Linked DNA regions of Homo sapiens. Changing the gene in region 2 together with the main gene of any one other region gives a genetic interaction. Each region holds a gene or a part of one and is shown on either strand. Other genes may lie near its edges. The genes, in order: ATR and DBF4.

Region 1 (3,826 bases), on a different chromosome or scaffold from region 2:
ATCATTTTCCAAAGCAGTTGTAACACTTTATAATCCCACTAGTAATGTATGTGGGTTTCAACTTCTCTGCATCTTTTCTATCTTTAGATAACATCTTTATCTATCCTGGTTATTGTCTGCCTTTTTTATTTTAGCCATTCTAGGGATGTGAAGTTGTATCTCATTGTGGTTTTAATTTGCACTTCCCTAATGACCAGTGATGGTGAGCATCTTTTCATGTCTTTGTTGGCCATTTGTAGATCATCTTTGGACAAATGTCTATTGAAATCCTTTGCCCACTTTTAAATTGGGTTTTTTTATTCTTTTTTTTTTTCCTTTGAGACAGGGTTTCGCTCTGTCACCCAGTCTGGAGTGCAGTGGCGTGATCTTGGCTCACTGCAACATCTGCCTCCTGGGTTCAAACGATTCTCGTGCCTCAGCTTCCTAAGTAGCTGGGACAGCATGTGTGCATGAGCCACTATGTCTGGCTGATTCTTGCATTTTTAGTAGAGATTGGGTTTTACCACGTTGGCCAGGCTGGTCTTGAACTCCTGACCTCAAGTGATCCTCCCACCTTGGCCTCCCAAAGTGCTGGGATTATAGGCATGAGCCACCATGCCTGGCCTATTCTTGAGTTGCAAGAGTTTGTTTCTTTGTTTGAGACAGAGTCGCCCAGGCTGGAGTGCAGTAACGTGATCTCCACTCACTGCAACCTCCGCTTCGTGGGTTCAAGTGATTTCCCTGCCTCAGCCTCCCCAGCAGAGAAGGGGTTTTGCCATGTTGCCCAGACTGGTCTTGAACTCGTAAGCTCAAGCCATCCACCTTCCTCAGCCTCCCAAAGTGCTGGGATTACAGGCATGAGCCACCCCGCCCAGCCAAGTTGCAAGAGTTCTTTACACATTTTGGATACAAGACCTTTTAAGATATGATTTTCAAATATTTTCTTCCATCTGTGGGTTGTCTCTTCACTTTCTTTGATGATGGCCTTTGAAACATAAAAGTTTTAAATTTTGATGCAGTCTAATTTGTTTTTTTCTTCTGGTTATTTTTGGTGTTTCTGTTGTCATATCTAAGAAACTATTCCCTAATCCAAAGTCATGAAGATTTACACCTATGTGTTCTTCTAAGCATTTTTGACTTTTAGCTCTGCTATTTAAATCTTTTATCTGTCTTCAGTTATTTTGTAGATATGGTGTAAGGTAGGGGTCCATATTCATTTTTTTGCATGTGCATATCCATTAGTCACAGCACCATTTTTTGAAAAGAATATTTTGCCCCTCGTTTAATTATCTTGGCTTTTTTGTTGAAATGGTCAATTGATTTTCAGCAATATTCTGTTGATCTATATGCCTAACCTTATGCTAACAACACAGTGTTTTGATTGTTGTACCTTTGTAGTAAATTTTGAAATCATAAAGTGTGAGTGTTCCAACTTTGCTTTTTTTCCCCCAAGATCATTTAGCTATTATGGGTCCCTTGTATTTCCATATTAATTTTAAAATCAGCTTGGATTTTGATAGGAAGGACATTGAATTTGTAAATCAATTAGGGAGTATTGCTGTCTTAACAATTTGGGAGTATTGCTGTCTTAACCATGTTAAGTCTTCTGATCGATGAACATAGAATGTTTTTCCATTTATTTGAATTTTATTTTTTTCATCAATGTTTTGTGGTTTTTAGGGTCAAGTTTTATATTTAACTTTTAAAAATTGTATTCCTAAGTATTTTATTCCTTTTGATTTTATTCTAAATGGAATTTTTCTTAATTTCATTTTTGGATTGTTCATTGCTAGTGCATAGATATATAATTGATATTTATATATTGATATTGTATCTTACAATCTGCTGAATTCATGTATTAGTTCTAATAATTATTTTTGTGCCTTCCTTAAGATTTTCTCTCCACAATAACATGTCACCTGCAGATACAGTTTTTCTTCTTCCTTTTTAATATCAATGCCTTTTATTTCTTTTTCTTGCCTACTTGCCCTAACTAAATCAGTGTCGAATAGACATGCTAAAAGTGGACATCCTTGTCTTGTTCCTGATCTTAGGGGTAGAGCAGTCAGTCTTTGACTTTTAAGTATGATGTTAGCTGTGGGAAACAGATTGTTTGAAAGGACTTTTAAAGCTTATTTATTCACCTTCATTATTTAAAAGCTGTCTATCGGGCCGGGCGCGGTGGCTCACGCCTGTAATCCCAGCACTTTGGGAGGCCGAGGCGGGCGGATCACGAGGTCAGGAGATCAAGACCATCCTGGCTAACACGGTGAAACCCTGTCTCTACTAAAAATACAAAAAATTAGCCGGGCGAGGTGGCGGGCGCCTGTAGTCCCAGCTACTCGGGAGGCTGAGGCAGGAGAATGGCGTGAACCCCAGGGGGCGGAGCCTGCAGTGAGCCGAGATTGCGCCACTGCACTCCAGCCTGGGCGACAGCGAGACTCCGTCTCAAAAAAAAAAAAAAAAAAAAAAAGCTGTCTATCAGACATTATGGTAGAATACTGGTTAGTTGGACATATGCAAAAGCAAATTCTCTGAAATAGGAAGTATATCATCATGTGGAACAGTTACCAAGAGCCCCTGTGTTAGTCTGGGTCAGTCAAGAAATAATTTCTGGAGGAAGTAGTTGAGACCTTAAAAGTTAATAAAGTTGACCATGCAAGGGAGAAGAGAGTGTTCTGAGTGATAAAAATATCAAGGCAAGTGAAGTCATGGCCTGCCTGAGAAATACAGTATGTATTCCAGAGGGTATACTTCCAGGAGGTGGTGCTAAGAGATGACGCAGGACAGGTAAGCAGGGGCTAGATTATGAAGGTCTCACATGGGGCCTGTTACTACATTATAACTTTGCCTGCAGAGCAACCAGAAGTCATTGAGGATTTTAAGAAGGAATAAAAAGGGGGCAAGGGGTGGAAAGAGATAATCTGATTTGTACTGTAGAAAAAATAGGGTCCTAGTTTGGGCCAACAGCCAGAAAACTAGTTAGAGGTTTATTGCAGTAACCCAGGAAAGGATGATGGTGTACTGGATAGTGTCACGGCCGTAGAGACGGAGATAACTGAAGAGATTCCAAAGAGATTTAGGAGTTGTAATTGCATGTTAGAGGAAGACGGGGTGAGGATGATTCCTAGATTTTTGTCTAGGGCAAATGGGTGGATGATGATTTGGGGAATACAGGAGAAATAGTTGGGAAAAGGTAATTAATTTTATTTTGGAGATACTGAGTTTGAGGTGTTTGGAACATATCCAACTGGGTATTTCCCATAGGTAATTGGATTTGATGTTTAGGGTGCAGAAAAAAGGTCTGGGCTAGGTCTATATGGTAGCTATAGATGTTATATCGTTATTGAAGACATGGTAAGGGATAAAATTCCTTCATTCAAAATATAGTCATTTACCAGTTCACAGTATACACTTAGAGATGGCACATAGAACCCATCTTACTCTATTCTCCAAAACACCTCTGACTCCCCTCTATCTTGCCTTTTTTCCTGCCTTCCCTTCTCTTACCCTCCCCTCACACCAAAACAGAAATTTCACATAACTTAATGAAGACGTAGTAATGTGTATTATAAGAGTATTACCATTAGCTTCTCATCCTTCACTTAAATATTGATGTCAGCAAGATTTCTTCTTGCAAAGATAACATCATACCATAATATTTGTTTCAATTTTAGTGTCTTAAAGACTTTTCTACATGATCCTCTTGTGGAATGGAGTAAACCAGTGAAAGGGCATTCCAAAGCGCCACTGAATGAAACTGGAGAAGTTGTCAATGAAAAGGTTAGTAGAAGGTATAGCTTGATATGGGCTGTAGTCCTCATCTCTACAAATGAACTTGATATGC
Region 2 (3,826 bases):
TTTGGATTCTGATGACAGACATACATGGTAAAGAATTAACTGCTGAACCTAAGGAATAACTTTAAAAATTTATTGTCCTAAACTATCACACACAATCTGCATAATTTGCAGAGACTTGTATCAGCAAGTACTTTTAATCATATTTCTTTATACTATATTGAGAAGCAAACTAAAGATTTAATGAATATTCTGGAGAATATTTCAGATCATTCAAGATAAACTACACATTTTCATTATTCACAAATATTTTAAGGCCCTCCCCACCTCCATCTAAACAGATTCAGACTTATAAAAGTAATCAGAATAGTAATTACAAACACAAATAACCATTATGGCATAAATGAAACTATTTCAAATCTTTACAAAGAAAAATTGAGATGAAATTCTGAATATTCCTTCTAAAAGTAAAGATTCAAACCAACCTTAGTTTAACCTGAGTTTGCTTTTGCATACTAGATGGCTTGTCTACATCAAATGGACTGCAGGGCTTCTGAATAGAATAATTTATAAAAGGCATATTGGTCAGCTGAAGATAAAATGGCCTATAAAGTCTAGAAGAATAAAAAGACAAATACATGAGATTCTTTATGATTAAAGAAAAAAGGTTTAAAGTTTTGTATTTCAAAATCATATAATTAAGCTGGAATCTGAAATAACAAATTATTTAGGCTTTCCTTCAAAAAATCAATTTCAGGCCTAACAATTTTTAACATTTAAACATTTTTTAAATTGTGGTAAAATACACATAAAATTTATTACCTTAACCATTTTAAGTGTACAATTCAGTTGCATTAAGTATTCACAATGCTGTGGTACCATCACTGCTACCGTCCATCTTTTGTAAGATGACGTATTTTCATCTTGCAAAAACTGAAACTCTATACCCATCAAACAGTAACTTCCCAAATATCCTTTCTCCATATCCCCTGACAACCACCATTCTACTTCTTGTTATCAGTTTGACTAACGTAGATGCTTCAGGAGTGGAATCATGCAGTATTTTTTGTCTTATTTCACTTAGCATAACGTCTTAAAGGTTTATCCATGTTGCACGTGTCAGAATTTCATTCCTTTTAAAGGCTGAGTAATATTCCATTGAGTGTGTGTACACACACATCCTGCATACTGTTTATCCATTAATTTGCTGATGGACTTGGATTACTTTCACTTTTTGGCTGCTTAATAGTAGCCATCCTAAATAATGTAAAGTGGTATCTCACTGTGGTTTAGATTTGCAATTCCCTCATGATTAGTAATGTTGAGCATCTTTTCATATGCTTATTGGCTATTTGTGTATCACCTCTGGAAAAATGTCTATTCAGCGCTTTGCCCCTTTTTAAAATTGGGTTGTTTTGTTGTTGACTTGTAATTCTTAATATATTCTGGATATTAACATTTATTAGATATATGACTTGTTCAACCTGAGAAAGCTGAAAAAAAGAAATAGATACATGACTTGCAGTATCTTCTTCCATCCTTTCGGTTGCCTTTTTACTGTTATATCCCTTTAGGCACAGAAATTTATATTTTTGATATGGTCCAATTTAATTATTTTATCTTTTGTAATCTGTGTTTTTGGTGTCACGTCCAGGAAAGCACTGCAAATCCAATGTCATGAAGCTTTTCCCCTGTGTTCTCTCCAAGAGTTTTACCATTTTAGGTCTTTGGTCCATTTTGAGTTAATTTTTGAACATGATGTGAGGTAGGAGTCTAATGCCATTCTTTTGCATGTGTATATCTAGTTTTCTCAACACTGTTAAAAAAGACTGTCCTTTCTCCATTAAATTATCTTCATACCCTTGTTGAAAATCATTTGGCCATATGTGTGATGGTTTATTTCTAGGCTCTCTATTCTATTCCATTCGTTTATATGTCTTTATTCCAATGCCAAATTGTTCTGATTTCTGTAGCATTACAGTAAGTTTTAAAACCAGAAAGTGTGAGACCTCTTACTTTGTTGTTCTTTTTTTTTTTTTTTTTTGAGACGGAGTCTTGCTCTGTCCCCCAGGCTGAAGTGTAGTGGCGTGATCTCGGCTCACTGCAAGCTCTGCCTCCCGGGTTCACGCCATTCTCCTGCCTCAGCCTCCTGAGTAGCTGGGACTACAGGTGCCCGCCACCAGGCCCGGCTAATTTTTTATATTTTTAGTAGAGACAGGGTTTCACCGTATTAGCCAGGATGGTCTCCATCTCCTGAACTCGTGATCTGCCTGCCTCGGCCTCCCAAAGTGCTAGGATTACAGGAGTGAGCCACCGCGCCTGGCCTTTGTTGTTATTTTTAATGATTGTCTTGGGTTTCCTGCATCTGTTACAATTCCGTATGAATTCTAGGATACGTTTTTACTATTTCTGCAAAAAACATCATTGGGATTTTGATAGGGATTGCAGTGAATCTGTAGATCACTTTGGGTGGTATTAACATCTTAACAATATTATATCTTCCAATTCATGAACATGGGATGTCCTTTCGTATACTAGTGTCTTTTCTAGGCCTCCTTTTGAATTGCACTTTTTTCTTCACAGCAACACATTTCATAAAAAGCAGTTTTCAATACACTTTTGTCGCCTCAGTGTGAGTACCCAAGAGAATTAACCACAGATGTCTAAATGAATAAGTGGAAAGAAAAAAGAAAGTAATCTAATTCTCTCATGGCAGGCCTATTTATATCTGTGGTCTTCATTAAGATTATCCCACATGGCTGGGCACAGTGGCTCACGCCTGTAATCCCCGCACTTTGGGAGGCTGAGGCAGGCGGATCACTTGAGGTCAAGAGTTAGAGACTAGCCTGGCCAACATGGTGAAACCCCATCTCTACTAAAAATACAAACATCAGCTGGGCATGGTGGCGTAGACCCATAATCCCAGCTACTTGGGAGGCTGAGGCAGGAGAATTGCTTGAACCGGGGGTGGGGTGGACGTTGCAGTGAGCCGAGATCGTGCCACTGCACTCTAGCCTGGGTGACAGAGCAAGACTCCATCTCAAAAAATCAAAACAAACAACAACAACAACAAGACTATCCTACAATACTTCAGAATTTTGGAAATCAACCATGTTAGATGTTATACTTAGATTTTCTGTTTCTAAATAGCATCTAATAATTTCTTTTTCGCAAATGAAGGCGTAATCTTTCAGTAGTTCTAAATCATTTGGTACTGCATTTAGCCAGAGAATAATTTAAATACTAAAAAAACGGTGTCATGATTTTTCTAAACCAGCTATTTCAGGAATATCTACAACATACTGAAACTAAATTCAGTCCTTGAGCACAAATGAATTAATGCTACTTTCGTTAACTTGTGCCGCATGCACATTAGTATAATATAAATCAAACACAAAGGAACCTAACAGTACTAATCGAGCTAGCCTAATTAGTTAGGTGATTTTCCTCTTTAGTATTGCACTTAAATCATACAGATTGGACTTAAATACTTACTGGCTCATATCTTCCACCTTTACAAAAGGCTTTTTGAGTCTTCCTGCTTGAGAACATAGAAAACATATTAGATACTTGCAAATTCAGGATTCTTTTTTTTTTTTAATAAAACTACTGTGGCAAAACAAAACCCTCCAAACAAAAAACTATGTATCCACTTTAAAGTTTTAAGCCTCAGATGAGGTACTTCCATTATCACCTCATTTCCAAAAATAACAGAAGCTCTCTCCTATATTCTGAGATTCTTAAACTAAATGGAACCCTCAAATTAACAGGATTCAGGAAGGTCATAAATTAGAACAGGAGAAAAACTACACTATTGTCTTCACTAACCTCAAACTGAAATTTAGCATTTCCTTCAATTATAAATGTAACAAATCACACTATTCGCAGT

What was found.
Region 1: changes in DBF4 (region 2) and ATR are lethal when combined (synthetic lethality), as found in Homo sapiens cells (one large-scale study listed by BioGRID).

Annotation. Positions count from the first base shown.
Region 1 is NC_000003.12:142,453,064-142,456,889, reverse strand, and holds part of ATR (serine/threonine-protein kinase ATR), read left to right. Parts: intron 1-3,656; coding exon 3,657-3,762; coding exon of another isoform or gene 3,763-3,826. UniProt on the Homo sapiens protein: Serine/threonine protein kinase which activates checkpoint signaling upon genotoxic stresses such as ionizing radiation (IR), ultraviolet light (UV), or DNA replication stalling, thereby acting as a DNA damage sensor.
Region 2 is NC_000007.14:87,896,946-87,900,771, reverse strand, and holds part of DBF4 (protein DBF4 homolog A), read right to left. Parts: intron 3,479-3,826; coding exon 3,433-3,478; intron 552-3,432; coding exon 423-551; intron 9-422; coding exon 1-8. UniProt on the Homo sapiens protein: Regulatory subunit for CDC7 which activates its kinase activity thereby playing a central role in DNA replication and cell proliferation. Required for progression of S phase.